Linked DNA regions of Homo sapiens: all the other regions are linked to region 4. Evidence: fine-mapped expression QTL. A gene starts in region 4. Each other region holds a variant in brackets. All regions are shown on one strand. Distances are from middle to middle. Region 1 overlaps PI4KA (phosphatidylinositol 4-kinase alpha). Region 2 overlaps ZNF74 (zinc finger protein 74). Region 3 overlaps PI4KA (phosphatidylinositol 4-kinase alpha). Region 4 holds the start of PI4KA (phosphatidylinositol 4-kinase alpha). Region 5 overlaps PI4KA (phosphatidylinositol 4-kinase alpha). Region 6 has its middle 94 kb from the start of SERPIND1.

Evidence for each region. PIP is the estimated chance that this variant, and not a neighbour inherited with it, causes the effect. A credible set is the group of variants that fine-mapping cannot tell apart.
Region 1: its variant is the best candidate, but not a certain one, in a credible set for the expression of PI4KA in whole blood (INTERVAL, PIP 0.84).
Region 2: its variant is the best candidate, but not a certain one, in a credible set for the expression of PI4KA in skeletal muscle (FUSION, PIP 0.51).
Region 3: its variant is the best candidate, but not a certain one, in a credible set for the expression of PI4KA in whole blood (TOPMed, PIP 0.56).
Region 5: its variant is the best candidate, but not a certain one, in a credible set for the expression of PI4KA in whole blood (TOPMed, PIP 0.53).
Region 6: its variant is the best candidate, but not a certain one, in a credible set for the expression of PI4KA in esophagus mucosa (GTEx, PIP 0.72).

The regions. Positions count from the first base shown.
Region 1 is chr22:20,823,669-20,828,668 of GRCh38, reverse strand. PI4KA (phosphatidylinositol 4-kinase alpha) reads left to right here. Exons shown (of 55, transcript NM_058004.4): 4 at 4,255-4,343. Among named protein-coding and RNA genes, the nearest start is that of PI4KA, 33 kb to the left of the region's middle. The variant A/G (reference allele first, on the strand shown) is at 2,602.
Region 2 is chr22:20,401,544-20,406,998 of GRCh38, reverse strand. ZNF74 (zinc finger protein 74) reads right to left here. Exons shown (of 5, transcript NM_003426.4): 5 at 1-1,622. The coding sequence ends at 31. Among named protein-coding and RNA genes, the nearest start is that of ZNF74, 10 kb to the right of the region's middle. RefSeq lists cis regulatory regions at 1,617, 1,884 and enhancers at 1,533-1,702, 1,800-1,969. The variant G/A (reference allele first, on the strand shown) is at 1,889.
Region 3 is chr22:20,752,850-20,757,849 of GRCh38, reverse strand. PI4KA (phosphatidylinositol 4-kinase alpha) reads left to right here. Exons shown (of 55, transcript NM_058004.4): 24 at 4,670-4,740; 25 at 4,823-4,947. Among named protein-coding and RNA genes, the nearest start is that of SERPIND1, 19 kb to the left of the region's middle. The variant A/G (reference allele first, on the strand shown) is at 2,462.
Region 4 is chr22:20,856,159-20,861,576 of GRCh38, reverse strand. PI4KA (phosphatidylinositol 4-kinase alpha) reads left to right here and starts at 2,766. Exons shown (of 55, transcript NM_058004.4): 1 at 2,766-3,007. The coding sequence starts at 2,852. SNAP29 (synaptosome associated protein 29) reads right to left here and starts at 2,570. Exons shown (of 5, transcript NM_004782.4): 1 at 2,230-2,570. The coding sequence starts at 2,466. RefSeq lists an enhancer at 1,839-2,648 and silencers at 2,328-3,087, 3,108-3,157.
Region 5 is chr22:20,721,142-20,726,141 of GRCh38, reverse strand. It overlaps PI4KA (phosphatidylinositol 4-kinase alpha), which reads left to right. Exons shown (of 55, transcript NM_058004.4): 43 at 4,724-4,844. Among named protein-coding and RNA genes, the nearest start is that of SERPIND1, 50 kb to the left of the region's middle. The variant C/T (reference allele first, on the strand shown) is at 2,362.
Region 6 is chr22:20,677,197-20,682,671 of GRCh38, reverse strand. No RefSeq gene overlaps it. Among named protein-coding and RNA genes, the nearest start is that of SERPIND1, 94 kb to the left of the region's middle. The variant A/T (reference allele first, on the strand shown) is at 3,236.

The DNA.
Region 1 (5,000 bases), 33 kb after region 4:
GCAGGAGAATCGCTTGAACCCGGGAGGCAGAGGTTGCAGTGAGCCGAGATCACGCCACCGCACTCCAATCTGGCAACAGAGCAAGACTCTGTCTCAAAAAAAAACCCCAAAAAAATCCACAACAAACTCTAGGCATTGAAGGAACATACTTCAAAGTAATAATAGCCATCTATGACAAACCCATAGCCATCATTATACTGTATGGTCAAAAGCTCGAAGCATTCCCCTTGAAAACCAGAACAAGACAAAGATGCCCTCTCTCACCTCTCCTATCCAGCATAGTTCTGGAAGTCCTGGCCAGAGCAATCAGGCAAGAGAAAGAAATAAAAGGCATCCAGATAGGAAGAGAGGAAGTCAAACGATCTCTTTTCATAGATTATATGATTTTATACCTAGAAAACCCTATAGTCTCTGCCCAAAGCCCCTTGATCTGATAAACAACTTCAGCAAAGTTTCAGGATACAAAATCAATGTACAAAAATCAGAAGCATTCCTATACACCAACAACATCCAAGCTGAGAGCCAAATCAAGAACACAGTCCCATTCACAATATTCACAAAAATAATAAAATACCAGTCGGGCATAGTGGCTCACGACTGTAATCCCAGCACTTTGGGAGGCCGAGGCAGGTGGATCACTTGAGGTCAGGAGTTCGACACCAGCCTGGCCAACATGGTGAAACCCATCTCTGCTAAAAACACAAAAATTAGCTGGGCATGGTAGTGCACGCCTGTAATCCCAGCTACTTGGGAGGCTGAGGCAGGAGAATCGCTTGAACCTGGGAGGCGGAGGTTGCAGTGAGCCGCGATTGTGCCACTGCCCTCCAGCCTGGGCGACAGAGTGAGACTCCATCTCAAAAAAAAGAAAAGATAAAATACCTTGGAATACAGCTAACCAGGGAGGTGAAAAATCTCTATAGCAAGAATTACAAAATACTGCTGAAAGAAATCAGAGCTTACACAAACAAATGGAAAAACATCCCATGCTCATAGATAGGAAGAATCAATATTGTTAACATGGCCATACTACCCAGAGCAATTTATGGATTCAGTGCTATTCCTATCAAACTACCAATGACATTCTTCACAGAATTAGAAAAAAACTATTTTAAAATTTTTATGGAACCAAAAAAGAGCCTGAATAACTAAGGTAGTCTGAAAAAGAGTAAAGCTGGAGACATCACATTACCCAACTTCAAACTTCACCTCTACTACAGGGCTACAGTAACCAAAACAGCATGGTACTGGTAAAAAAAATAGCACATAGACAAATAGAATAGAGAGCCCAGAAATAATGCTGCACACCTGGAACCATCTGATCTTCAACAGAGTCAACAAAACAAGTAATGGGGAAAGGACTCCCTGCTCAATAAATGGCGCTAGGATAACTGGCTAGCTATATTCGGAAGATTGGAACTAGACCCCTTACTTACACCTTATACAAAAATCAACTGAAGATGGATTAAAGATCTAGATGTAAAACCTTAAACTATAAACACCCTGGAAGATACTAGGAAATACCACTCTGGACATAGACCCTGGCAAAGATTTAATGGCAAAAATTTAATGACAAAGATGCCAAAAGCAATTGCAGCAAAAACAAAAATTGACAAATGGGACCTAATTAAACTAAAGAGCTTCTGCACAGTAAAATAAACTGTCAAGAGAGTAAACAGCCACCCTACTGAATGAAAGAAAATATTTGCAAACTATGCAAAGGTCTAAAGTCCAGAATCTATGAGGAACTTAAATTTACAAACAAAAAAAAAACCCCGTTAAAAGGTGAGCCAAGGACGAATAGATACTTCTCAAAAGAAGACATACAAGTGGCCAAAAATATATGAAAAATATGCTCATCATCTGATGCTAATAATCAGAGAAATGCAAATCAAAATTGCAATGAGATACCATCTCACACCAGTCAGAATGGCTATTATTAAAAAGTCAAGAAATAACAGATGCTGGTGAGGTTGTAGAGAAAAGGGAACACTTACACACTGCTGGTGTGAATGTAAATTAGTTCAGCCATTGTGGAATGCAGTTTGGCAATTTCTGAAAGAATTTAAAACAGGATTACCATTTGACCCAGCAATCCCATTATTGGGTATATACTCAAAGGAATGTAAATCATTCTACTGTAAAGATGCATGCGTAAGTATGTTTATTACAGCAGTATTCACAATAACAAAGATAAGGAATCAACCTAAATGCCCATCAGTGGAAGACTGGATAAAGAAAATGTCGTATGTGTACCGTGGAGTACTGTGTAGCCATAAAAAAAGAAAAAGATTATGTCCTTTTATTTTTTATTTTATTTTATCTTTTTTTGAGACGATCTCGCTCTGTCACCCAGCTTGGAGTGCAGTGGTGCGATCTCTGCTCACTGCAACCCTCGCCTCCCAGGTTCGAGCGATTCTCCTGTCTCAGCCTCCCAAGTAGCTGGGATTATAGGCATGTGCCACTACACCCGGCTAATTTTTATATTTATAGTGGAGATGGAGTTTTGCCGTGTTGGCTAGGCTGGTCTCGAACTCCTGGCCTCAAGTTATTTGCCTGCCTCAGCCTCCCAAAGTGCTGGGATTACAAGTGTGAGGCCACCAT[A/G]CCTGGCCAAGATCACGTCTTTTGTAGCAACATGGATGGAGCTGGAGACCGTTATGGGAGAATTAGCACAGCAACAGGAAACCAAACGCTGCATGTTCTCACTTGTAAGTGGGAGCTAAACTTCGAGTACATATGAACACAGAAGGGAACAGCAGACACTGGGGCCTACTTAAGAGTGGAGAATAGGAGGAAGGTGAGGATGGGAAAACTACTTTCTGGGTACTATGCTTATTACGGGGATGATGAAATAATCTGTACACCAAACCCCCGTAACATGCAGTTTACCTGTATAACAAAACTGCGTATGTACCCCTGAACCTGAAATAAAAATTAAAAAACATTCTGTTTGTGCCAGTATTCCTCTTAACCTTTGGGTTTTCATCATTTCTGGTAACATGCCTAAAACTGACAGATCCCAAATTATGCATGTACCTGCAATTTGTTAGGATTTTGTTTGTTTTTTGTTTTTTTGAGACAGTCTCACTCTGTCTGCACTCCAAGCTGTAGTGCAGTGGCCTGACCTCGGTTCACTGCAACCTCCACCTCCTGGGTTCAAGCAATTCTCGTGCCTCAGCCTCCCAAGTACCTGGGATTACAGGCATGCATCACCATGCCTGGCTAATTTTTGTATTTTCGGTAGAGATAGTATTTTGCCATGTTGGCTGGGCTGGTCTTGAACTCCTGGCCTCAAGTGATCTGCCTGCTTTGGCCTCCTAAAGTGCTAGGACTATAGGCATGAGCCACTGCACCCAGTCTGTCCTGCAATTTGATGGACTACAAATTAAATAGAGCATCATTACTAAAAGGTCAAATTTTAGGCCGGGCATGGGCACATTCAAGTTTGAGAACAGCCTAGAGCTGCACTTTAAAATTTTAAGTGCTGGAGTAGAAATGTAAGTCTTCTGTCATGTACTATGAATATAGCTATTAAATAGTGGATACTCTTTTTTCCTTGATTCAACATTCAATATTCAAAATTGATTTTTTTTTTTTTTTTTGAGATGGCGTCTCATTCTGTCACCCAGGCTGGAGTACAGTGGTGCGATCTCGGCTCACTGGAACCTCCACTTCCTGGCTTCGAGCTATTCTCCTGTCTCAGCCTCCCAAGTGGCTGGGATTACAGGTGTGCGCCACCACACCCAGCTAATTTTTGTATTTTTAGTAGAGACGGGGTTTCACCATGTTGGCCAGGCTGGTCTTGAACTCGACCTCAGGTGATCCGTCTGCCTTGGCCCCCCAAAAGTGCTGGGATTACAGACTTGAGCCACTTCGCCCAGCCGAGTGTTTTGTGTGTGTGTGTGTGTGTGTGTGTGTGTGTGTGTGTGTGTGTGTGTGATTTATCACATTTACTTAGGGAATAAAAAATTGAATCTGTCATGTTGAGAGGCTTTGTTATCTCACACTAGCTATTGGCTCAGGAAACATTTAAGTTTATTGAACCAAAACATTTACTTAAAGGAAAGGTAAGGGTGTTTCTCAGCAAACTCATTGGGCCCATAGCTGTTCTTTTGAGACTCGTCTCAAGGAGGGCAGCTGCTGTAAACTGGTCCCTTGGCAGGTCATGGTGAGAGGGAACATATTGAATTGGATGGCCAGAGGTGTGACCCAGTATCTGGTTCCTGGTTATCTGATTTATGTTTTTACATCTTCCAGGTGCCCTCCCGGTTGCAGAGAGCTTCAGCTTCTGCTTGGTAACTCTGCTGTCTGATGTGGCCTATAGGGATCCTTCACTTAGGGATGAGGTAAGCATGTGTTGGTTGATTTGGTATGCATTTCTATTAGATTGAATAGAGTCCCAAAGTGATGAAAAGATTTTAAAAACGTGAAATGTGATTGAATTGTTTGTTGATATTTATCTATTTCATCCTGTTGACAGCAGACCTAAGACATGCTTAGGTCTTTCACTACTCTTTAGGATCTCGAGTCTTATCTTATTAAACTTTTCTTTTTTTTTTTTTCTTTTTTCTAATGAAGGGCAGGGGCTGCAGAGACATGAGCAGCACTATCCCTTTCAGCTTTTCAGAAAGTCCTTTAAGGTAGGCGGCAGAAAAAGGCAGAGGCAGCTCATTTTTCTTGCTCTTTGTTGGGGATTGAAGTCATTCATAGAAGATCATTTTCTTTTCTTTTTTTGAGGCAGTCTTGCTCTGTCATCCAGGCTGGAGTGCAGTGGTGCAATCTTGGCTCACTGCAACCTCTGCCGTCCACCTCAAGCCAGCCTCCCTCCTAAGACTCCCAAGTAGCTGAGACTATAGGCGTGCACCATCATGCCAGCTAATTTGTTTTGTATTTTTTGTAGAGACAAGGTTTCGCCATGTTGCCCAGGCTGGTCTTGAACTCCGGGCCTCAAGTGATCCTTCTGCCTCGACCTCCCAGAGTGCTGGGATTATAGGTGTGAGCCA
Region 2 (5,455 bases), 450 kb after region 4:
AAGCAGCTACTGACACCAAAGCACATCATGTTAGTTTCGAGGTTTGCTCCCCAGGGAGAAATTCCTGCCAGCTCTGGGGGGAACCACGCACAAGAGCTTTGCCACATCCAGCGCGTCGATGGGATCCACGTCCCTCAGTCCAGCATCCCCTGCACCCAGCAGGCTGCCAGGCACGTAGTATGTGCTGAGCAGGTGTTTGTTGAACTGGATGGCCAAGGGCTTCCCCTCGCTGTGCAGCCTCTGGTGCTCAGTGAGGTGCGAGCTCCAGTTGAACATCTCCCCACATTTCTCACACTTAAACGACTTCTCCCCGGAGTGGATTTTCTGATGTTTAATGAGACAGTGGTTCTGGCTGAAGGCTCTGCCGCACTCGCTGCACTTGTAGGGCTTCTCACCGGTGTGGATGCGCTGGTGCACGATGAGGGACGAGTGGCAGCTGAAGGCCTTCCAACACTGGCTGCAGTCGAAGGGCTTCTCGCCTGTGTGGATGCGCCGGTGCACGATGAGGTAGGCGTGGGAGCTGAAGGCTTTGCCGCACTCGTTGCACTTGAAGGGCTTCTCGCCGCTGTGGATGCGCCGGTGCACGAGCAGGTACGCGTGGCAGCTGAAGCCCTTCCCGCAGTCGGCGCACTTGAAGGGCTTCTCGCCCGTGTGCGTCCTCTGGTGGAGGGTGAGGCGCGAGCGGCTGTTGAAGGCCTTCTCGCAGTCGCTGCACTTGAACGGCTTGTCCCCGCTGTGGATCTTCTCATGCACGGTGAGGGATGAGTGGCAGGTGAAGGCCTTGCCGCAGGAGCCGCACTGGTAGGGCTTCTCGCCCGTGTGGATGCGGTGGTGGCGTGTGAGGTGTGTACGCTGGTTGAAGGCCTTGCCGCACTCGCCGCACCGGTAGGGCTTCTCGCCGGTGTGCACCCGCAGGTGCATGCTGAGCAGCGAGCTGCAGCTGAAGGCCTTCTCGCAGGCGCTGCACTTGTAGGGCCGCTCGCCCGTGTGGATGCGCTGGTGCACGTTGAGGGACGAGTGGCAGCTGAAGGCCTTCCCGCACTCGCCGCAGAAGAAGGGCTTCTCGCCGGTGTGGATGCGCCGGTGCTCCAGAAGGTTGGTGCTCCAGGTGAAGGCCTTGCCGCATTCATCGCACTTGTAAGCCTTCTCCCGGCTGTGCCAGCGCCGGTGCAGCGTGAGGGAGGAGCTCTGGCGGAACGCCTTCCCGCACTCGCCGCACACGAACTCGCCCTCCCCGGCGCCCGCCCCGCGCTGCCGGCGCACCTGGGGGAACTTTTCTGGCTCACTTGGCGTGGAGGCGTTTTCCCCTGCACACAGTCTCGCGGGGGCCTTGGTTCTGCCCTCAGTGGCCTGGACGTTCTTGCGTGTGTCCAGCAAGGGTCCCCCCTCGGGAACGCGTTGCTGGGCGAAGAGGGGACACCTGAGGGGGAATTCCTCTACAGGGACGTCCCAGACCATGGCAGGTGCGGGCGCCCAGGGCGCAGCCTGACTCCTCTGCAGAGCACCTGCCTGGCGCCCCCACGCCTGCGCCCCGCCGAGGGGCCGCTCCATGATGGGCTCCTGGGCCGGTTCTTCTTTGCAAATGCCCTGCTGTTGAGAGGGCACCGCCTTCAGCTCCCATTCTGTAAGATATTGAAAATGATTTTCTGTGAGCAAGCGGAAACCTGGCCTAGAATTCAGATTTGAGAATTGGCCTGGAGATGCAGATAAGCCCAGAAAAGAGAGGAGAGGCCACCAGGGCCAAGGCTGGAAGGTGCAGGCAGAGAGAAGGGAGCGCCCAGGATGAGATGGGCAAGCAAGAGCGGGAAGAAGGGAGAGGAAGAACACGGAAGGAGCTACCAGAGAGCAAAGACCGGGAGAGGCGGAGAAGCCAAAGGAATCCCGGAAG[G/A]AACAGCTACAAGCACCAAGGGGGCTGAGAAAGGGGCAAGCTTGGGAGCTGTTGATGAGGATTACACTCATTCACGGACACGTCGGCTGACCGACTGCTCTGTATCAATACCATGGCAGGTGCTCGCAATACACAGGACAAATACATGTTTTTTGTTTGTTTGTTTGTTTTGAGACCGAGTCTCGCTCTGTCGCCCAGGCCGGAGTGCAGTGGCGCGATCTCGGCTCACTGCAAGCTCCGCCTCCCAGGTTCACGCCATTCTCCGGCCTCAGCCTCCCGAGTAGCTAGGACTAACAAATGAATTAAAAATTGTCTGTGGTGCCAAAAGGAAAAAAGGGCTCCCCACACCCCAGCGCTTCCCTTTAGAACACTGGGAATTGCAAATGCTTTCTCTGTCTCGAGACGCATGCAAACCTTTTCAGAAGCAAAATGAGCCTAGTCCAAGAGTCGAGTCCAAGATGTAACTTCCTGCTTGTCAAAAAGCTACAAGAGGCTGGGCGCGGTGGCTCATACCTGTAATCCCAGCACTTTGGGAGGTCAAGGTGGCGGATCACTTGAGCCCAGATCAAGACCAGCCTGGGTAACACAGTGAGACCCCTCTACAAAAAATACAAAATTAGCCAGGAATGATGGTACCTGTCTATAGTCCCAGCTACTCAGGAGGCTGAGGTGGGAGGATCACCTGAGCCTAGGGAGGTTGAGGCTTCGAGCTATGATCATGCAACCGCACCCCAGCCTGGGCAATAGAGGGATACCCTGTCTCAAAAAACAAACAAACAAACAAAACCCAAAAAGCTGTACTCTTCCTTTAGGTGAAGACAGTTGCCCTGTGTGCTGGGTTGGATGTGTCTCCTCTGTCAAAGGGGGAGGTTTCTTTCTCTCCTGTACACCACATCTGGTTAAACACTTATTCAATAAGAAGGCTTTCTTTCTTTTCTATCTCTATAGCAAGGTTTTCTGAGCTGGCAGGAGATTTTATTTCTAATTCTGTCCTCCCCAGGCTTAAAAGGGAGCAGTCTAGTGCAGCGGGCAGAGCTGCATGGTGGTGCTGCCTGTGGCCCCAACACATGCAGAAGAGCAGGGCAAGTGGAACTGGCCATGGCACACATGGCAGGTAGCCAGGTGGAGAGTGAACAGCATGTGCAGAAGCTCAGAGGTGAGACAGTAAGATGAAGACAAGACACGCAGAGGCAGGAAGGCTGAGAGGTGACCCTGGCAAGGTGGATGGGTTCGAGGTGACCAGATGCCTGACTCAGAGGGCAGCCGGGGAAGAAAGGCCTTTTGCACAGAGGGTGATGTGATCATATGGTGTCTTGACGGGGGGCGGGGGAAGCAGAGGGCGGGGACACAGTCTCGCTCTGTTGTCCAGGCTGCAGTGCAGGGGTGCAATCACAGCTCGCTGCAGCCTCCAACTCCTGGGCTCAAGTGGTCCTCCTGCCTTGGCCTCCCAAAGTGCTGGGATTAGATGTGTGAGTCCCTGTGCCTGGCATAATGGTTTGTCTTGAAGGTGGCTTTGGTGGTGTGTAAGGTGGTTGGAGCCAGCAGTTAGGGAGGCCAGTTAGGGAGGCCATCTGAATAATTCAGGTGAAAAATGGCAACTTCAGACTGGAACCAAGGCTGTGAAAATGAACAGGAAGCAGCAGATCTAAGAGCCATTTAGGTGCTAAAACTGATGGCCCTAGCTGTTGACTGAAGGTGGCAAGAGAGGAAATGGGGGAGAGGATGAGACCTCAGCAAACACCCAAGCCTGGGTGGATGGTGGAAGCTTTTATAAAGGAGGAGGAAGGGCCAGTTCCAAGTCTGGTTTTAGACATGCAAGCAGAGGCCCACGAGATGGTCAGTGACACAGGGCTGCAGCTCAGCTGGTGTTGCTATAGTGTAGACCACATCCACACCAAGTGAGAGGTAAGAGTCTAGGGAAGTTGCACAGAGCAGAGAGAAGAGGCCCAGGCCAGAAAAAAGTTGTTTTGGCAGCAATAGGGCCAACAACACAGCAGGGCACATTCATCTAAGGGATACTGTGCAATCAGTAAACATCACGTGAGGACGCTCACTATGCCATGGCCAGTGTGGTAGCCAGACTCCGGCGTGAGTGCTGTGCTTCCGAGGGTGCATAAGGCTTTATTTATTTATTTGTTTGAGATGGAGTTTAGCTCTGTCACACAGGCTGGAGTGCAATGGTGCGATCATGGCTCACTGCAACCTCTGCCTCCCGGGTTCAAGCAATTCTCCTGCCTAAGCCTCCAGAGTAGCTGGGATTACAGGTGCTCACCACCACGCCCAGCTAATTTTTTTTTTTTTTTTTTTTTGAGATGGAATTTCACTCTTGTTACCCAGACTGGAGTGCAATGGCACGATCTCAGCTCACCGCAACCTCTGCCTCCTGGGTTCAAGCGATTCTCCTGCCTCAGCCTCCCAAGTAGCTGGGATTACAGGCATGCACCACCATGCCCAGCTAATTTTGTAATTTTAGTAGAGACAGGGTTTCTCTATGTTGGTCAGGCTGGTCTCGAACTCCTGACCTCAGGTGATCTGCCTGCCTCGGCCTCCCAAAGTGTTGGGATTACAGGTGTGAGCCATCACGCCTGGCCACATGTAGCTTTAGAAGTCTATCCGCACACAGAGGAAGGGCCCAGAGGAATCAGTGACATGGTCAGTTATTAGAGAACCGTCATCTCTGGGTGGAAAGATTATGCAGGATTTCAGTAACCTTTCAGCCTCATTTTCAGTATATTCATATATGAATCAAACAAAAATATGAATTTTTTGAAACCTGTAATCTTGTTAAAGAGGACAAAGCAAGCATCAGAGGCTGGGGTGAGAAATAAAGACCAGAAAGCTGGGGCTGCAGCCACTGTTGCAGGTTGGGGCTGGGTGGTATGTGGCAGTGGAGGGGGATGGAGGAGGGGCTGCCTTCCCCGACCCCCGTGTTCTGTGCTCCACAGCTTATCGGCTGCCTTTCCCACAGAAAGGTGTTTCTCGAGCTTTCTAGACACCTAACATGCTCAGCAGTCACTGTCCAATAAATTAAGCCGAATTTACCACTTATTTATCAACCAACTCAGAAGAGAAGTCTACAAAAAGAATGTTGGAGAAGAAAAGCAGACTACCTTCTGCTCAACACCCACCCCAGTCCCCTTTCCCTTACGGAGGGCTGCCATCTTGGCCACAGCCTGGAAGCCCTCGCTGACGTTGACCCTGACCCTGACGCTGATGCTGACCCTAATGCTGATGCTGACTCTGACCCTGACGCTGATGATGGCCCTGACACTGATGCTCACACTGGCCCTGATGCTGATGCTCACGCTGGCCCTGACACTGATGCTGGCTCTGACCCTGACGCTGACGCTGGCCCTGATGCTGATGCTCATGCTGACCCTGACACTGACCAACGCCAGCTGCCCCTTCCCTGGTGGCCCCCTGCCCCCAATCCCACACCCCCGGCTGCCCAGCCAACACCAATGGCTCAATATTTCTATTCCTGCCTCCCCATCCCCATCAGCAGGTGACCATTTGGTCCCAGTGGCCAGGTTTGTTCCCTGTTGTATCCCAGAACAGGTCTCAGCA
Region 3 (5,000 bases), 100 kb after region 4:
GAAAAAGGCTGGGTGCGGTAGCTCACGCCTGTAATCCCAGCACTCTGGGAGGCTGAAGTGGGTGGATCACTTGATGTCAGGAGTTCGAGACCAGCCTGGCCAACATGATGAAACCCCATCTCTACTAAAAATACAAAAATTAGCCAGGTGCGGTGGCGTGTGCCTGTAGTCCTGGCTACTTGGGAGGCCAAGGCAGGAGAATCACTTGAACCTGGGAGGCAGAGGTTGCAGTGAGCTGAGATCACACCACACACTCCAGCCTGGGAGACAGAGTGAAACTCCATCTCAAAAAAAAAAAGGAAGGAGAACCTAGCAGATTTTGCCAGCCTTCTAGAGAATATTCATAAACCGAATCAGATCCCTTTCTGAAGTGAGATGTCTCATTCGCCCTTCTCTCTGAGCTCTGTTTTTCTGTTCCTGTGACATCAGAGGACGTTAAATTGTTCCGGGGGACTGATTGTTCCTCCTCACCTTAATTCAAAATAAAGCGATTTTCATTTTTGCAGTACATTGTACTCTTCCACATGGTTTCAAACTGATTATTTTTGTTCTGAGCGTGGCACTTAGCCAGTAAATGTACAGCTATTGAGTGTATATCCCTCTTATATTTTTCCTCTAAAACATGAAAGATAAGAAGGAAATGTCTTTGGAGACATATATTATTCTTGAATTTTCAGAACCTACCAGGAGGAGAGGGTATATGAAATATCTAGCAGCCCCACTAAAGTGGGGACTTCTGCCTCCTCTCTGCAGGTATAAGATGAGCCTCTGTTATGTTCTCAGCTGCACAGGAACGTGAGGGCAGGAGCCTGCTGCTCACCTGCCCACCATCCTGTGAGTCAGTTCACCAGTAATCCAGAGCTAAACTAAGGGGTTAAGAGGAGAGTGGCCTTTTTAAAGTAAAAATCTTACTTACCTTAGGGCCGGGTGTGGTAGCTCACACCTGTAATCTCAGCACTTTGGGAGCCGAGGTGGGCAGATCACTTGAGGTCAGGAGTTTGAGACCAGCCTGGCCAACATGATGAAACCCATCTCTACTAAAAATACAAAAATTAGCTGGGTGTGATGGCAGGTGACTGTAATCCCAGCTACTTGGGAAGCTGAGGCAGGAGAATCACTTGAACCTGGGAGGCAGAGGTTGGAGTGAGCCAAGATCACACCACTGCGCTCCAGCCTGGGCAACAGAGCAAGACTACGTCTCAAAAAAAAAATTTTTTTTAATCTCCTTAGATGCTACTACATGACATTGATTGGCATCTGATGTCTATCTGATTATCAGGAATTTACAGTTTCAGTTTCCAAAGAACTATATGAAAAAACTATTATACTAGGCCAGGTGTGGTGGCTCACGCCTGTAATCCCAGCACTTTGGGAGGCCAAGGCGGGTGGATCATTTGAGATCAGGAGTTTGAGACCAGCCTGACCAACACGGAGAAACCCCATCTCTACTGAAAATACAAAATTAGCCCTGCATGGTGGCGCATGCCTGTAATCCCACCTACTCGGGAGGCTGAGACAGGAGAATTGCTTGAATCTGGGAATGCAACCCGTCGGAGGTTGCAGTGAGCTGAGATCGCACCACTGCGCTCCAGCCTGGGCGATGAGCGAAACTCTGTCTCAAAAAATTAAAAAAAAAAAAAAAAGCTATTATACTAAACACATGGCCCAAAATAAGATTTCACCCACCCAACCCAGCCTCTTAAGAAAGCAGCCTCTCACTACCCTTGAGCATCTGTCCAGGTCACACTGATAACTTTTCAAATTGCTGCGGTCCCACTTACCCTTATAACAGATAGCTATGAAAGGCCTCTTTATGTCTCAGGCTTCATGCTGGGTGTGAGGTGCCAAGCTGATAGCACCTGCCTTGTCTCTCTGCCTGGAGGCAGAGGGCAGACCCAGCATGTAGTCATGCAAATTAAAAACACTGGATAGAGAAACAGCATTATGGAGTGTGAATTGGCATTTTATTACAGTTTCTTCATCTGCACTGTGATGATCACTGTGTTCTGTTGCTTTTTTTCTTTTTCTTTTCTTTTTTTTTTTTTTATGTGACAGTGTGTCGCTCTGTCACCCAGCCTAGAGTGCAGTGGCACAATCTCAGCTCCCTGCAACCTCTACCTCCCAGGCTCAAGTGATTCTCATGCCCCAGCCTCCCAAGTAGCTGGAATTAACAGGTGTGCACCACCGTGCCCAGCTAATTTTTGTATTTTTAGTAGAGACGGGGTTTCACCATGTTGGCCAGGCTGGTCTCAAACTCCTGACCTCAAGTGATCCACCCGCCTCAGCCTCCCAAAATGCTGGGATTACAGGCATGAGCCACTGTGCCCAGCCCATTCTGTTGCCTTTTACAGCCTACTTGGCACCTCTGTAACAATGAGCATATCCGGTGCTCAGATCTTGGTTTCTAAATAGTATTCTCCAATAAAAGGAACCAGGGCTCCATGGAGAAATGGTTGATTCT[A/G]GGGAGGCCTGTACAGGATGAGCCTGGGGCACCTTGTTACACCAGAAAGTAAGGACACGCCAAGAAAGAAGAAGAAAAGACAAGACATGGGGCCTGTCCGAATGACACAGGAGCCAACCTGAAAGAGCTCCGAGTGGCCAAAGCTGGAATGATTTGAATAGAATAAATGGTATTGGATTATAACCCAACGAATAAACATCCACGGTTCTGTAATGATTAGACTACCGAATAAATAAAAAATGGGGAAAAAGGCTGAACCTTCCTTACAGAATTCCAGTTACTATTAATAAAAATAGAAGAGGCTGGGCACGGTGGCTCATGCCTGTAATCCTAGCATTTTGGGAGGCCAAGGCAGGAGGATTGCTTGAGCCCAGGAGTTCAAGACCAGCCTAGGCAACAAAGCGATACCCTGTCCCTAAAAAATAAATTTTTGTTTTGTTTGAGATGGAGTCTCGCTCTGTCACCCAGGCTGGAGTGCAGTGGCATGATCTCAGCTCACTGCAACCTCTGTCTCCTGGGGTCAAGCGATTCTCCTGCCTCAGCCTCCCAAGTAGCTGGGATTACAGTGGCACGCTACCATGCCTGGCTAATTTTTGTATTTTTAGTAAAGATGGGGTTTCACCATGTTGGCCAGGCTGGTCTCGAACTCCTGACCTCGTGATCCACCCACCTCGGCCTCTCAAAGTGCTGGGATTATGGGCGTGAGCCACCATGCCTGGCCAACATTTTTTAAAAAGTAGAAAGAATTGAGGGAAATAGAAAATTCCTATGACAACCACAGTAACTACTGCAGGCAGAATTCACTCGTGGATGCCAAAGTGAAGGGGCAAAATCTTAAAAGACATGATCTCTGCATAACTTCAAAGTATCTTCCCCAAAATATCAATCGCTGTGGTGGCTGTAATTCTCATTCACAAATTTCCTTCAGGAGGTAGCATTTAATTCCTTGGCTCTGAGTGTGGGCTGTCCTTAGTGACTTGCTTCTAAAGAATAGAGAAAGGGACTGGGCATAGTGGCTCACGCCTGTAATCCTAGCACTTTAGGAGGCCGAGGCAGAAGGATTGCTTGACCCAGGAGTTCAAGACCAGCCTGGGCTACATAGTGAGACTCCCAGTCTCTACAAAAAATAATCAATTAGCTGAGCATGGTGTTGTACATCTGTAATCCCAGCCACCAGGGAGGCTGAGGTGGGAGGATCCCTTGAGCCTGGGAGATCAAGGTTGCAGCTGAGCTATGATCTCACCATTGCACTCCAGACTGGGCAACAAAGTGAGACCCTGTCTCAAAAAAAATAGAAAAAGGGAAAAACGGTAACTCAAACCAAGGGATCAAGGTTAGCTTCACCAGTAATAAGAGATACTGTTATCACATACCACTTACGTGATGCAGAAAGAGCACATCCAGGCCGGACACGGTGGCTCACGCCTGTAATCCCAGCACTTTGGGAGGCCGAGGCGGGCGGATCACGATGTCAGGAGATCAAGACCATCCTGGCCAACGTGGTGAAACCCTGTCTCTACTAAAAATACAAAAAATTAGCCGGGCGTGGTGGTGGGCACCTGTAGTCTCAGCTGCTCAGGAGGCTGAGGCAGGAGAATGGCGTGAACCCAGGAGGCGGAGGTTGCAGTGAGCCAAGATCGCGCCACCACACTCCAGCCTGGGCAACAGAACGAGATTCAATCTCAAAAAAAAGAGAAAGAAAAAAGAAAGGGCACATCCACTCTATGGAGTTCTCCCTCAAATCCTGTAACCCTAGTCTTATCATGGACAAGCATCAGACAAACCTAAATTAGGGGACATTCAACAAAATAACTGTTCTTCAAAAGTGTCAAAGTCACAAAAGACATTGACAGACTGAGGAGTCACCACATATTGGACAGGAGTAGGAGACACAGATTAAATGCCACCTGGTGTCCTGGGTTGGATGCTGGAACAGAAGCGGGGCATGTGTGGGAGACCTGGGAAATCCAGACGAAGTCTGAAGTTTAGGTAATAGGATTATATCAATATCTGACTCAGTTTTGACACATCAGCCTGGTTACTGCAGATGTTAAAATCCAGGGAAGCTAGGTGAAGGGTATATGGGAGCTCTGTGCTGTCTTTGCCACTCTCTGTAAGTCTAAAATCATTTCAAAAGAAAATGATTGAAAGTTGCTAGGATTCTCTCTCTGTTGCTGCACCTTATCCATGGAAACCTTCTCGTTTCAGGGATGATGCAGTGTGTGATTGCAGTCGCGGACAAAGTATTCGATGCCTTCCTGAACATGATGGCGGATAAAGTAAGCCTCTCCAGCATGAATGCGTGTCTGTCTGCTGGAGGCATCTGGGGCACTGCGGTACCTGTTTCTTTTGCATCTCTAGGCCAAGACCAAGGAGAACGAGGAGGAGCTGGAGCGGCACGCTCAGTTCCTGTTGGTGAACTTCAACCACATCCACAAGAGGATAAGGAGGGTGGCAGACAAGTATCTATCTGGTCTGGTGGATAAGTAAGCTCATTTTCCTGCTAATGTTTTGTGTGTATGTATATAAACTTCTGTGA
Region 4 (5,418 bases):
AATCCCAGCTACTTGGGAGGTTGAGGCAGGAGAATCATTTGAACTGGGGAGGTGGAGGTTGCAGTGAGCCGAGATCACACCATCGCACTCCAGCCTGGGTGACAGAGTAAGACTTTGTCTCAAACAAAACAAAAATAAAAAACCAACAGTTAAACACAGGGAGGTGGGCTAGGTGCAGTGGCTCACGCCTATAATCCCAGGACTTTGGGAGGCCGAGGTGGTGGATCACGAGGTCAAGAGATCGAGACCATCCTGGCCAACATGGCAAAACCCCAACTCTATTAATACCAAAATTAGCTGGGTGTGGTAGTGCACGCCTTAGTCCCAGCTACTCAGGAGGCTGAGGCAGGAGAATCACTTGAACCCAGGAGGCGGAGGCTGTAGTGAGCCAAGTTGGTGCCACTGCACTCCAGTCTGGTGACAGAGCGAGAATCTGTCTCAAAAAAAAAAAAAAAAAACCACAGGGAGGTGGATCAATGAGGGATACATGAACAGAGAGAGGTGGGGAAGGGAATTAACCCAAGAAAACAGCAAGGGGAAATGATAGCGTGTTGCTCTGTCGCCCAAGCTGGAGTGCAGTGGTATGAACATGGCTCACTGCAACCTTGACATCCTGGGCTCAAGCGGTCCTCCTGCCTCAGCCTCCTCAGTAGCTGCACTCACATGTGTGTGCCACCATGCCTGGCTAATTTTTCAAATTTTGTAGAGACGCAGTTACCCCTGCTGGTCTCAAACTCCTGGGCTAAAATGATCTGCCTACCTCAGCCTTACAAATTGTTGGGATTACAGAAGTACAACCGCGCCTGGCTTATACATTTTTTTAAACCTTTTTTTTTCTCTGTCCAAACAAAACTGTTTCATTAGCAGGCTGAAGAGAGACTGTGGTGTACAATAAAGAATCATTCTCGACCGGTATGGTGGCTCACGCCTGTAATCCCAGCCCTTTGGGAGGCCAAAGCGGGCGGACTGCCTGAGGTCAGGAGTTCCAGACCAGCCTGGCCAACGGGGCAAAACCCTGTCTCCACTACAAATACAAAAAAAATTAGCCGGGTGTGGCGGCGCACCTGTAGTCCCAGCTACTCGGGAGGCTGAGGCAGGAGAATCGTCTGAATCCCGGAGGCGGAAGTTGCAGTGAGCCCAGATCATGCCACTGTACCCAAGCAAGGGCGACAGAGCGAGATTCCATCTCAAAAAAAAAAAAAAAAGAAAAAGAAAAAGACCCTCCAGGATCTCGGTCTGTTGCCCATGCTGGAGTGCAGCAGCACGATCTCAGCTAACTGCAACCTCTGCCTCCCGGGTACAAGCGATTCTCCTACCTCAGCCTCCTGAGTAGCTGCGACTACAGGCGCACCGCCACACCCGGCTAGTTTTTTTTTTTTTTTAATTTTAGTGGAGACAGGGTTTCACCATGTTGCCCAGGCGGGTCTCGAACTCCTGAGCTCAGGCGATCCGACGCCTAGGCCTCCCAAAGTGCTGGGATTACAGGCGTGAGTCACTGCGCTCGGCCAGAATAATTGTTATTGAAGGTACTACTCTCTGAAATCTAAGGATGGGAAGAACTGATGAAGATGAGTTGGAGCAACAAACTCTTAACCCGCACACTATTTGTCTAGGATTTGGGAAGTAAAGGTAAGACCCTGGACTCAATCAAACCCAGGCTTTGGTCAACTAGGCAGCTGTCTGGGCTGAAGGGACTTCAATACCTCTATTGGTTGGTTAGGTGGAGATGTCAATGATGCGGGAAGAACTCGTGGACCACCTGCCCTGATGCTTCAGGGTATCACCTGACACTCGCAGGCACATAGTCCTCTCTTTCTGGCTCACTCCGGAAGGAATGGCCAAAACCCTGTGCCAGATTTTGCACAGGAAATAATGTCGAAGAAACGGACTCTCCATTTCCCAAACCTAGGACCTGCTGTTCAGAATTTTTACTCACCTGGACAGAAAATAATCTGGCGTTTCCCCGTGAGCTAGGCGTAAGAAAAAAAAAATCAACGAAGCAGACTAATAGCTAAGGAAGATTTCTGGGGTAAACTGCCCTCTTCAAGTACTCCAGATGCACATACCTTTACATAGTTAACAGATTGTTACCACCATCGAGTCACTAAGGTGCAAGAATCTATGCTAGGCAACTTGAGAATTCTCAAAAGATTGTGAGCAAAACATTTCTCGTCTCCGTTTGACAGCACAGAGACCGGCGAGTCCACACCAGCCCTGCCCCAGGCTCACCTCGGAAGAGGCGACCCCAACCTTCTCGGACTCGTACATGAGGGCCAGGGACCTGCTGGTGCTGGCGGCCGTGGCCTCAGCCCTGCGGAGGACCTCCTGCCGCAAGTACTGCTGCCTGTCCGCGGGCGCGTCGGGCCCGTCGGGGAGGTCTCGGGCGTCCCTCCAAGGGGCCGGCCGGGCGCCTTCGTCCTCCCCGTCGTCGTCGAACGGATTGTAGCTTTTAGGGTAAGCTGACATGGTGCCGGCGCGGCTCTCGGTCTGGGAAACAGAAGGAGGAGCCCCACTGCCGCCGCCGTCCAGGGCCTCGCCCCGCCCGCCGACCCCGCGGTCGTCGCGCGAACTCCTTCCGCGCGTCGCGCGCAGGTGGCCCCGCCCTCGGAGCCGACCATCGCGCAGGTCGGCTGGGGGGGGCCCACATCCGGCGCGCGCAACCGCAGCCTACTGTCCATCCCCTCTCTCCCCTGCAGCGGTGGGCCCGCCCCGCAGCCACGCCCTATCTAGTGTCAGCAACTGAGAGGTCACGTGGCGGGAAAGCCGGATGCACCTACGCCTGCGCCCTGAGGTCGGGCGCTCGCGGGCCAGGAGCGGGGAGCCGGCGGGCAGCGCCGCGGCTCGTGAGGTGATGGCGGCGGCCCCGGCCCGGGGAGGCGGAGGCGGAGGCGGAGGCGGCGGCGGCTGCTCCGGCTCCGGCTCCAGCGCCTCGCGGGGCTTCTATTTCAACACGGTCCTGTCACTGGCCCGCTCCCTGGCGGTGCAGAGACCAGCATCCTTGGAGAAGGTAACGTCGGCGGGCTGGGCCGCGGGCTGACAGGAGGAGGGGCTGGGGTGACGAAGCGTGGAGGCGGGACGAGGGTCTGTGGGAGGCCGAGGCTGGGCTCGCCGGCAGCCTGTGCGGGAGGGGGCGCCTGAGCGGAGGGATCTAGCGGGGGAAGGAGGCCCTAGTGGGAGGGGCTGGTGAAGAGAGAGGGACCGTGGGGGAAGGGTCGGCGGGGCCTGCAGGGCCGCTGCAGGTGGGTGGTTGTGGGATGGGGGTGGGGGATGTGAGCTGCTGGCCCAGGGAGCATCTTGTGACATCGCGGAGGTGGAGGCTGGATCGTGGGCGGCTGTGCGGAGCAGTGGGATGAGCCGAGGACCAGGGGTCAAGACCTGGGGTTCTGCTTCCGATTTCACCTGCTTTTTATTCCGCGACCTTGGGAAGATGGCTTTCTTGTAAAATGGGGATGCTTTTATCTGCTTTGCCGGCTTCACCGGACTGTGGTGACCAGGAGACGAAACACTGTCTTGAAAGTGCTTTGTGACTGTAAACCAACTGCGCAGTGTTATTCTACGAGGCTGGGGGCGTTAGGTTGGGTAAAAGATTGTGCGTTTGCAGAAGGGACAGTGGCAGGGAAAGGAGAGTGAACTGTCAGTGGGCAGAGAAGTGAACTTGGAATTGCTTCAGAAGAGAAAGGTGAAGTCATGCCAGAGCAATCCTCATCTTGGGAGAAAGGTGAAAGGCAACTCAGTGGTGTGCCTTGAGATCTGGAAAGAGACAGATTTTAGAGTGGGACCTGAATTTGTTCCCTGCACTGGCACTTACTTACCATGTCCTCTTGGGTAAATTTAACTCTTAGAGCCTCTGTATCCTTATCTGTAAAATGAGGTTGTTCTTGAGAATTAAATGAGTTCTAGCATAAAGCATCTTGCACAGGTCAAGGCACAGAGTGGGTGAGCAGTAAATGTCAACTTTCTTTGCCCACCCGTGTGCGATGAGACTCAGCACAGTGTTTAGCTCTGAAAGGATGGAATTATTTTCCCACTCAACTTTTTGGCACATGGAGAGAGGATGTTTTCCGACAAGATAAGACAGTGGTGACCGGAGACCAGCCTGCTGCAGTTGGGAGTGGTTTTGTGGCTGTCTGCTGATGGATGAAGCTGAAAGGCTGTTTTAGGCACTTTTGGCAGAGTGACCTGGTCCTTGGCCTTGTCGGTTCTCATATTTGATTTTATCATGCACCTTCGGGGTGAGAAGGTCCCGGCAGATTGGTGCTAACCTGACTTCTAGCTAAAGAGGGAGTACAATGCAATGGAAAGGACATGAGTTTGGAAAATGGAACCTCTGAATTTAAATCCTGTATCACTTGCTTTCACTAGTGTGACTCTAGACAGGTCAGTTCCCTTCTCTGATACTTTGCTATCTTCTGTCAAATACAAGGTAGTACTTCATAGGAGTATTGTGAAGAGCAACAAAAAGGCACGTGGGTACCTAATGTATGAGCACTGTTATCATTAGATAGTCTGACTAATGGAGTGTAGTGCTGTTTTATTGAATCAAACTCATGCTAGCTAGTCAGCACATTCGCTTCTTAGCAGGAGAGCCAACAAATATATCTTATGACTGATTGCTGGATTCTGGGAGGAGAGAGAAGAGAATGCAGTGAATTGGATGATCTTTAAGAAGCTGGTCCTGCAGCTCCAGCAGTGGTAGCACCCTTTCCACTCAGTAACTCAGAAAAGGGCACCTTGAGCTCAATTTGCTTCTTCAGCCATGTTCACTAGTCACGAGAACATTCTGTAATTGCAACATTCTTAGCTTTGTAGTAATAACTGCTTCAGTTGTCAAGATTATATTTTATGATGGGGCACGGTGGCTCATGCCTGTAATCCCAGCACTTTGGGAGGCTGAGACAGGCAGATCACTTGAGGTCGGAGTTTGAGACCAGCCTGGCCAACATGGTGAAACCCTGTCTCTGCTAAAAACCCAACATTAGCCAGGTGTGGTGGCACGTGCCTCTAATCCCAGCTACTTGGGAGGCTGAGGCAGGAGAATCGCTTGAACCTGAGAGGCAGAGGTTGCAGTGAGCCAAGATTGCGCCATTGCACTTCAGCCTGGGTGACAAGAGCAAAACTGTCTCAAAAAAAAAAAAAAAAGAAAAAGATTATATTTTACAAGGAACACAGCCATAGCCACAGGTTGGCAGCTCCCTAATGCCACTTACTTTAGGAAGTACTTCAGTCTCATTGGCAACATTTACCAATCACTTTTTTGGTTTTTTTGAGAGGGAGTCTCGCTCTGTTGCCCAGGCTGGAGTGCAGTGGTGAGATCTCGGCTCACTGCAACCTCTGCCTCTCAGTTTCAAGCTATTTTTCCACTGTAGCCTCCTGAGTAGCTGGGACTACAGGCGTGTGCCACCACCCCGGGCAAATTTT
Region 5 (5,000 bases), 140 kb after region 4:
CGAGATGACATATGCATTAGTCTGCCAGGGCTGCATAGCGAAGCACCACAGACTGGGCAGCTTAAACGACAGAAATGTCTATTCTCATTCTCAGAATTGTGGAGGCCAAAAAACAAAACAAACAAACAAACAAAAAACATGAATTCTGGAGGCCAGAAGTCCAAGGTCATTGTTCGAACAGGGTTGTTTCCTTCTGAGGCCTGTCTCCCTGGCTTTTTTTTTTTTTTTAAGAGACAGGGTCTCGCTCTGTCACTCAGGCTAGAGTGCAGTGGCGTGATCTCAGCTCACTGCAGCCTCAACCTCTCGGGCTCAAGCTATCCTCCCACCTCAGCACCTTCCCCGCTACCCCTCCCAAGTAACTGGGATGACAGGCGTGTGCGACCACGCCCAGCTAATTTTTGTATTTTTTGTAGAGATGGAGTTTCGCTATGTTGTCCCAGGCTGGTCTCAAACTCCTGAGCTCAGGCAATCTGCCCACCTCCGCCTCCAAAAGTGCTGGGATTATAGGCCTGAGCCACTGTGCCCATCTCCCTGGCTTATTGATAGCCATCTTCTCCCTGAGTCCTTACAGGGTCATCCTTTTGTGTGTGTCTGTGTCCTAATCTCCCCTTATAAGAACACCTGTCATACTAGATTAGGACCCACCCTATTGACCTCATTTTACCTTAATCATCTCTATAAAGACCCTATCTCCAAATACAGTACCATTCTGAGGTCCTGTAACATATGAATTTGAAGGGACACAGTTCAGCCCGTAACAGTATCCATGGACATAAAGTGCTCAGCACAGGTCATGGCACAGAAAATATCCATGGGAATGACCACAGCCAGGAGCCCGAGCCGCCTCTGCCCTCGCGCCAGCCTGCCCACTGCACCCTGTGTCTGAGTGCAGCTTGTCTGCCCTATTCCCCAACCCCAGGGCTGACCTCATTTCCCTGGATGAATTGGGCAGCAGACTCCATGTGTCCTGGCTGAGTCCTCACCACTCTGGCCCACCTGTGGGCTGGCTGAGTTACATGGCTGGGTGTCCCAGGGGCTAGCCTTGGAGTCTGTAGACCAAAGTGCTTCTAGAACAGCAGCCAGCCTCTGCTGAAAGACTGAGTCCTGTGGAATCATTCACTGCCCTCACTAGGTAGTGCCACACTCTCTGCGCCTCTGAGTGGTGATATGTGTGGAGCCACACTCACCAAGCCGGAGCCTTCACACTGGTGGCAACTTACAGGATTGTCATGAGGCACCTTCTCTTCAGCAACCTGTTTCCTTCCCCCTGGCTCCCCTCCCACATTATTTTCCCTTGACTGCTTGGCTCTCTGCTTGCATACAGGCCTAGCATAAGGGTGAGATCCAGAGGCAGTGGGGAGGGGAGCCAGTACCCAGGGCCTCCGTGTGAACTCTTGGTGGTGGCTACCAGAGAAAGGCCGCCTGAAATGATTCTTCTGTGTGTGGTTGTACCAACTCAGGACTCAGCTAGTTTCACTGGTTTCTTTCTTGCTTTCCATTTTTAGGGAATTTTTTTTTGTTCGTTTTGTTTTGTTTTAGACAGAGTCTCGCTCTGTTGCCCAGGCTGCAGTGCAGTGGCATTCTCGGCTCCTTGCAGCCTCTGCCTCCCAGATTCAAGCAGTTCTCCTGCCTCAGCCTCCCAAGTAGCTGGGATTGAAGGTGCATGCCACCACGCCCGGCTTATTTTTTGTATTTTTAGTGGAGACAGGGTTTCACCATGTTGGCCAGGCTGGTCTCAAAACTCCTGACCTCAGGTGATTCACCTGCCTTGGCATCCCATAGTGCTAGGATTACAGGCATGAGCCACTGCGCTCAGCCAGAATTTTTTTTTTTTTTTAGACAGAGTTTCGCTCTTGTTGCCCAGGCTGGAGTGCAATGGTGTGATCTCAGCTCACTACAACCTCTGCCTCCCAGGTTCAAGCACTTTTCCTGCCTCAGCCTCCCAAGCAGCTGTGATTACAGGCATGTGCCACCACACCTGGTTAATTATTTTAATTAATTAATGGCTAGGCGCAGTGGCTCACGCCTGTAATCCCAGCACTTTGGGAGGCTGAGGCGGGCGGATCACGAGGTCAGGAGATCGAGACCATACTGGCTAACAGAGTGAAACCCCGTCTCTACTAAAAATGCAAAAAATTAGCCAGGTGTGATGGCGGGAGCCCGTAGTCCCAGCTACTTGGGAGGCTGAGGCAGGAGAATGGCATGAACCCGGGAGGCAGAGCTTGCAGTGAGCCAAGATCATGCCACTGCTCTCCAGCCTGGGCTATACAGTGAGACTCCGTCTCAAAAAAATAATAAATATTTATTTATTTATTGAGATAGAGTCTTTGTTGCCCAGGCTGGAGTGCAGTGGCACGATCA[C/T]GGCTCACTGCAACCTCCACCTCCCAGGTTCAAGTGATTTTCCTGCCCCAGCCTCCCGAGTAGCTAGGATTACAAGCGTGTACCACCACGCCTGGCTAATTTTTATATTTTTAATAGAGACAGGGTTTCACCATGTTTGCCAGGCTGGTCTCGAACTCCTAACCTCAGGTGATCCACCTGCCTTGGCCTCCCAAAGTGCTGGGATTACGGGCGTGAGCCACCACACCCAGCCTATTTTTGTATTTAATAGACATGAGGTTTCCCCATGTTGGTCAGGCTGGTGTCAAACTCCTGACCTCAGGTGATCCACCTGCCTCGGCCTCCCAAAATGCTGGGATTACAGGCGTGTGCCACCACACCCAGCCTGGAATATTTTTTAAGTTTAAAAAAATTTATATCACTATGGCAATACAAATGTATATACATATTTGTTTATACTTTTACAAAAAAAGGGAACAGTAGGCCGGGCGCGGTGGCTCACGCTTGTAATCCCAGCACTTTGGGAAGCCGAGGCGGGTGGATCACGAGGTCAGGAGATCGAGACCATCCTGGCTAACACGGTGAAACCCCGTCTCTACTAAAAATACAAAAAAAGATTAGCCAGGCTTGGTGGGCACCTGTAGTCCCAGCTACTCGGGAGGCTGAGGCAGGAGAATGGCGTGAACCCGGGAGGCGGAGCTTGCAGTGAGCTGAGATTGCACTCCAGCCTGGGAGACAGAGCGAGACTCTGTCTCAAAAAAAAAAAGGAACAGTAAATCAAAAGTTAATAAAAATGGCCAAAGAGGGAGAGATCAGGATGGAACTGACAGATATGTACCATATTTAATAATTTTGACTTTGGAACTCTGTCAGTGTTTACATAATTAAAAAGCAAACTTATATTTAAAAACACTACACATTGAACATTCATAGTTTGTCTTTAGATCCATTTGCCGGGTTAGAATTGGGAAACCCAAAGTGAAGACTTCTGCCTGTGTGGTAAGACCACCCCCGACTCACCCAGGTCAAAAATGTCCATCCAAGGGACACTTCACCAGATCAGTGGCCACAGACTCCAGGAGGCTGCCCAGAAAGGCCAGCTCACCTTTTTAAACCTAGGGCATGGAATTAAAACTGGAGTTTCAAAACTTATGGCTCTAGGAACAAAAAAAATTTTTTTAATTAAAAAGAAAAACTGGAGTTACTACTATGAGTGGCGGAAAATGACCAAGAAGGAAGAGGAGGATAGGTCCTTAGGATGGTGACCACAGTTGTGTATATTAGTCCATTTTCACACTGCTATAAAGAACTTCCTGGCCAGGTGCGGTGGCTCATAACTGTAATTCCAGCACTTTGGGAGGTTGAGGTGGGTGGATCACCTGAGGTGAGGAGTTCAAGACCAGCCTGAACAACATGGCGAAACCCTGTCTCTACTAAAAATACAAAAATTAGCCAGATGTGGTGGTGTGCGCCTGTAATCCCAGCTACTCGGGAGGCTGAGGCAAGAGAATTGCTTGAACCTGGGAGGTGGAGGTTGCAGTGAGCTGAGATTGTACCACTGCACTACAGCCTGGGTGACAGACCGAGACTCTGTCTCAAAAACAAACAAACAAACAAAAAAACTTCCCGAGACTGGGTAATTTATAAAGGAGGCTTAATTGACTCACAGTTCCACGTGGCTGGGGAGGCCTCAGGAAACAGAATCATGGTGGAAGGGGAAGTAGGTCCGTCTTACCTGGCAGCAAGCGAAAGAGAGCAAGTGTGTGTGTAGGAGGAACTGTCAAACATTTATAAAACCATCAGATCTCCTGAGAACTCATTCGCTGTCATGAGATCAACAAGGGGGAACCGTCCCCATGATCCAGTCACCTCCCACCAGGTCTCTTCCTCAACACCTGAGGATTACAATTCAAGATGACATTTGGGTGGGGACACAAAACCTAATCATATCAGTGTGTCAGTTTGTGAAGGAGGTATCTCTGCATGTTTCTGGAACCTGTCTGTCACTTTGGAACATTGTTCTAAACAACCAGCTCACAAGTGAGTTTTTAGTACCCAGCCTGCTTTTTCTCGTACTTGACAACTCCAGAAATTGGTTTGAGAGTTGTGCTTCTTAAACCCATGGGAAGACACAGAGGAGACAAAGGCTGACTGTCGCCCGCTTTGCAACCCTGCCCCCCAGGTCCCAGCCCCCAGCCAGCTGGAACTTGGCCTGGCCACTGGCTGGACTCAACATCAATCCTGGAGAGCTTGTCCACACCACTAGAGCCACCGGGCCTTACCCTTGCCTGGTCTACCAAATGCCGGGAGTCAGCAGCTGCTGACAAGGCCCTCCTCATGGAGAGGGCCGAGCCTGGCTGACAGGGACCTTGCTCTCCTGCAGATGGGCTATGTGCGGGAGTATATTCTGTGGGCAGCGTCTAAATCCCAGCTTCTGGCACACCAGTTCATCTGGAACATGAAGACTAACATTTATCTAGATGAAGAGGGCCACCAGAAAGACCGTGAGTATTTTGTCCTCCCACAGGCCTCACTTACTGTCTTCAGTGCACTGCCAAGCACCTTCTACAGCCCCCAGGGCTCTCGCCAGCCTGCACTGCCCCAGCTCACCGACCCCTCCACTCCCACCCTTTGCTGGGGCACTTCTCACCTTTCAGCAC
Region 6 (5,475 bases), 180 kb after region 4:
TCCCAGGAGTTTGTGGCTTCAGTGAGCTATGATTGTGCCACTGCACTCCAACCTGGGGAACAGGGCCAGATTCTATCTCAAAAAAAAAGGGAAGGAAACAAAAAAATTGAGTTACAAATCAGTGCTGATTCTAACCCTGATTTTTTTCAACCCAGACTTGAGTGAAAGCCTTTCCAGAAATGTGTCTGTGTAGTTTCAATTCTTCAGGTTTGGGACAACCGATGTCAAACGTCCTTACCATTTCCTTCTAATGGCCTGTTCTTGCCTTAACCATGTGCCTGCTGCTCTGAGAATTCCTGTCAGCACTGGATCTGTCATTCTAAAAGAAATAGAATGTCATATGGCATTATCCTGCCCAAATATACACTTACTTGTCACAATGTATGGTCATTATCAGAAGCCCCTAGTCTCGTGGGAATGCCATGGGCTTTGGAATCAGTTCAGGGTTGGGACCAAATCCTGTGTCTATCAGTGTGAGATCCTGGACAAGATTCTGAGTCAAAGAATCATAAACGATCAATCAATAACTAGCCTGGGATGGGCATGATGGTTCACGCCTATAATCCCAGGACCTCGGGAGGCCAAGGCAGGTGGATCACCTGAGGTCAGGAGTTCAAGACCACCCTGGCCAACATGGCAAAACCTGTCTTTACTAATAATACAAAAATTTGGCCGGAGTTGGTGGCTCATGCCTGTAATCCCAGAACTTCGGGAGGCCGAGGCAGGCAGATCACCTGAGGTCAGGAGTTCGAGATCAGTCTGGCCAACATGGTGAAACCCTGTCTCTACTAAAAATACAAAAATTAGCCGGGCATAGTGGTATGCACTTGTAATCCCAGCTACTCAGGGGGCTGAGGCAGGAGAATCACCTCCAGGAGAACCCAGAGGCAGAGGTTGCAGTGAGCCGAGATCGTGCCATTGCACTCCAGCCTGAGCAACAAGAGTGAAACTCTGTGTTGTAAAAGATAGAAGAAAAATTAGCTGGATGTGGTGGTGCTCACCTGTAACCTCAGCTACTCGGGAGGCTGAGGCAGGAGAATTGCTTGAACCAGAAAGCGGAGGTTTCAGTGAGCCGAGACCATGCCAATGCATTCCAGCCTGGGTGACAGAGCGAGACTCTACCTCAAAAAAACCCAAAAAACAAAAAAACAAAGAAAAACAATTAGCCTGAATTGAATATTCTACCTTCTATTCCTTAACTGTTGTTATCTGTTATCACTAGTATAATCTGACTAGCCCAGATTTTATTCTGAGCTTTGAGGGAAATAGTTTTGAAGACTTATAGTTCAAGGAAAATCTTTCCCTGGGCTCAGACTTGTGTTTTTGTGAAATGGGGCTAACGTCTACCCCGCAAGGCCATCATGAACATAAGCTGAGATGACAGACCTAAGGGAAAGGCCTTGCACAGAGAAGGACTCCATCAGTGCCAGTTCTGTTCTTCACAACCCCTTGGTTTTTTGTTTTTAATTGAGGAACAACATCTATGCTGAAAAATGCACAAAGATTAAGCATAGAGCTTGGAGAATTTTCACAAACAGCATAGGTGTCTATGTAACCAGCCCCCAGATCTGGAAATACAGCATAGCCGGGCATGGTGGTGGGCACCTGTAGTCCCTGCTATTCTGGAGGCTTAAGCAAGAGGATAGATAGCTTGAGTCCAGGAGCTCAGGGATGAAGAGAGCTACGATTGAGCCACTGCACTCCAGCCTGGTGACACAGTACGATCCCATTTCTAAATAAATAAATACAGCAGGCCTCTAAACATCCCCCATTGTCCCCTTCTCTCCTGGATCTTACTAGTTTGCGGGTATGAGACTGTCATCCACAGGGGAGAAGCCGCCCGAAGGAGCTTCTCTGAGACCTTGCGTGTGTGAGTGAAAAATGGTGAAGTTCTCAGATAGTAACAAAGTTCATCCTTGTAATGGGTGTCTCCTTAGGATATCCAGGTGAACGCAGAGTTTGATGGCCTTGCTAGCTCAGTGAAGGGAATTCTTCCAGAACTCTGCATAAAGACTGGCGCTTGCAGAGTGGAGTATAAAAAGGAGTTGCTGCCAGTCTTCAGATCAGCCCTGCCAGCGTCTGTCCCTAAGTGACCTTGGAGTGTGGCTTCCTCATCTCCAATCAGCTGCTTCGACCTCCAGGTTGAGGAGCTCTTTGATTCACGAGGCCTTGTTACCACTTGTGTCTGCACTGAGTCCTCACGTCAGCCGTGTGCTAAGTCCACACGGTGCTCACACACCTGTACCCTCCTCTGTGCCCCACGGACCCTGCACTCATCTGGGCCTTCATGTGCTCTCACTCATTCCTGTCACACAAACCCCTACTAAGTACTGCACATTCAACTGGGCATGGTATCCAAGATGCCCAAGCAAGTCCCTGCCCTCCCCATGTTCATGTTCTGATGACCTCAGGAAACTATTAAAATATAAGGAGGGGTGCACACTCTACTTTTGAGAATGCAAACGGGCACAGCCTTTTTGGAAAGCAATATATCATCATGCACTGAGAGCCTCAAAACTGCCTGTGCCCTTTGATACAATCATTTGACTAATGTGCTCTAGAGAAATAACCAGAGATGCATAAAAGATTGATGCCTAAAGATGCTCATGGGGCCGGACGCAGTGGCTCACACCTGTAATCCCAGCCCTTTTGGAGGCCTAGGTGGCTGGATCCCTTGAGGTCAGGAGTTTGAGACCAGCCTGACGAACATGGTGAAACCCCAGCTGTACTAAAAATACAAAATTAGCCAGGCATGATGGCGCACACCTGTAATCCCCGCTACTCAAGAGGCTGAGGCAGGAGAATTACTTGAATCCTGGAGGTGGAGGCTGCAGTTCTCACCATTGCACTCTAGCCTGGGCAACAAGAGCAAAACTCTGTCTCAAAAAAAAAAAAAAAAAGATGCCCATGGAAATGCTGTTTATCATAATGAAAATTGGAAGTGTCCCCAATAACAGGGGATTGGCCAACTAAAATTTGGATATGTTAAATGTTAAAAGCAAATGTTAAAAGCCACATGCTCAAAGAACACTTAACCATTCATGAAAATACACATGATTAATGTTCAGTGAGAAAATTGGGAAGAAAAAAATCACATGGCAGCTGGGTGCAGTGGCACGTGCCTGTAGCCCCAGCCATTCAGAGGCTGAGGTAGGAGGATTGCTTGAGCTCAGGAGTTGGAGACCAGCTGGGGCAATACAATAAGACCCTGTCTTTAAAAATCAATCAATCAATC[A/T]CATGGCTTGTCTGACAGTTCCTCAAAAGCTTAATCATAGAATTACCATATAACCCATTAATTCCATTCCTAGGTATATACTTGAAAGAAATGAAGACATATGTCCCCACAAGAACTCGTGCACGAATATCCATAGCAACATTATTTATAATATTCTAAGAGTGAAAATGCCCACCAGTGGATAAATGCAACGTGGTATATCCATACAGTGGAATATTATTTGGCAATAAAAAGGAATTTGAGGTGATACCAATGTTCTAAAATGTATTGTGGTGATGGCTACGTAACTGTGCATATTCTAAAGGCAATTGAATTACAGATGCTTTACATGAATGAACTGCATGGTATGTGAATGGCATCTCAATAAAACTGTTTTGAAAAGAAGGAAAAGGACGGACACATGCTGAAAACGGGTGAAACTAGAAAACATGGCGCTAAGTGAAAGAAGCCAGCCACAAGATCACGTGTCGCATGACTGCATTTACGTGAAACATCCGGAGTACCCAAATCTATACAGACAGAAAGTAGATTATACATTGCCTAGGTGCAGAGAAATGGAAGGATTGGAGGTTGACGGCTAAAGGATGTGGATTTCTTTGGGGGGTGATAAAAATGTTCTAAAATTGATTGTGGTGATGTGCGACTCTATGAATACGCTAAAAACCGCTCGGTTGTACATTTTAAATGGGCGATTTATGCGGTATGTGAATTACATCTCAAGAAAGCTGCTGCAAAAAATATCATACGGGTTGAGCCTAGTGGTATTAAAAAAGTATAAATATGGCCAGGCGCGGTGGCTCACGCCCATAATCCCAGCACTTTGGGAGGCCGAGGCGGGCGGATCACGAGGTCAGGAGATCGAGACCATCCTGGCTAACACGATGAAACCCCGTCTCTACCAAAAATACAAAAAAAAATTAGCCAGGTGTGGTGGCGGGTGCCTGTAGTCCCAGCTAGGTGGGAGGCTGAGGCAGGAGAATGGCGTGAACCTGGGAGGCGGATCTTGCAGTGAGCCAAGATTGCGCCACTGCACTCCAGCCTGGGCGACACAGCGAGACTCCATCTCAAAAAATAAATAAATAAATAAAATAATTGTTTGGGTACACTGTTGCTGTTACGAAGCCTACGATTTGACTGTCTTGCCTTCATTGATGATCTTTTTCTCCCCATGGTTGCTTTTAAAATCTTGTGTTTGGTATCTTGTCATTTACTACTACCTTGAGTCTAGGCCTGGATTTTATTTAAATATATGTTTGGTATATATTGTGTTTCCTGAATTTACGAATTCATGTTTTACCAACAAATTTGGAACATTGTGTTATCTCTTCAAGTATTGCCTCCTTCATTCTCTAGATTCTCTCCCTCTAGTACTTCCAGTCTTTAAAATTCTTCCCTCCAAATCTCAACTTTCTAATGTTTTCTAGCTCCTTGTTTCTCCTACTGTTGTTTGTATAAAATTATAACGAAAAGTGTTTATAAGAAATTGTAAACAAATGTAAAACTAAATAAACATTGTTATGCAACATTTAAAAAATTGTTTGAACTGAAGGATAATAGTGACAAAGCCTATTAAAACCTCTGGGATACAGCAAAATTAAGAGGAAGGTTCATAGCATTAAATGCCTACATCAAAGAGCATGAATAGACAATCTAAAGTCATACCTCACAGAACTGGAGAAACAAGAACCAACCAAACCCAAACCCAGAAGAAAAAAGAAATAATAAAGATCAGAATTAAATAAAATTGAAACAAAAATACAAAAGATATATGAAACAAAAAACTGATTCTTTTAAGAGATAAACAAAATCAATAGACCATTAGTGAGATTAACTAAGAAAAAAAGGGAGAAGATCCAAATAAGCTCAATTAGAAATGAAATGGGAAATATTACAACCAATACCACAGAAATATGAAATATATTCAAGGCTACTATGAACACCCTTATGTGCACAGACTAGAAAATTTAGAGAGAGTGATAAATTCCTGGAAATATACAACCCTCCTAGATTAAAACACAAATAAATAGAAACTGCACTGGGTATAGTGGCTCACACCTGTAATCCCAGCACTTTAGGAGACTGAGGTGGGCAGATCACTTGAGGCCAGGAGTTTGAGACCAGCCTGGCCAACAGAGTTAAAACCCTGTCTCTACTGAAAATAAAAAAAATTAGCTGGGTGTGGTGGTGCACACCTGTAATCCCATCTACTCAGGAGGCTGAGGCAAGAGAATCACTTGAGC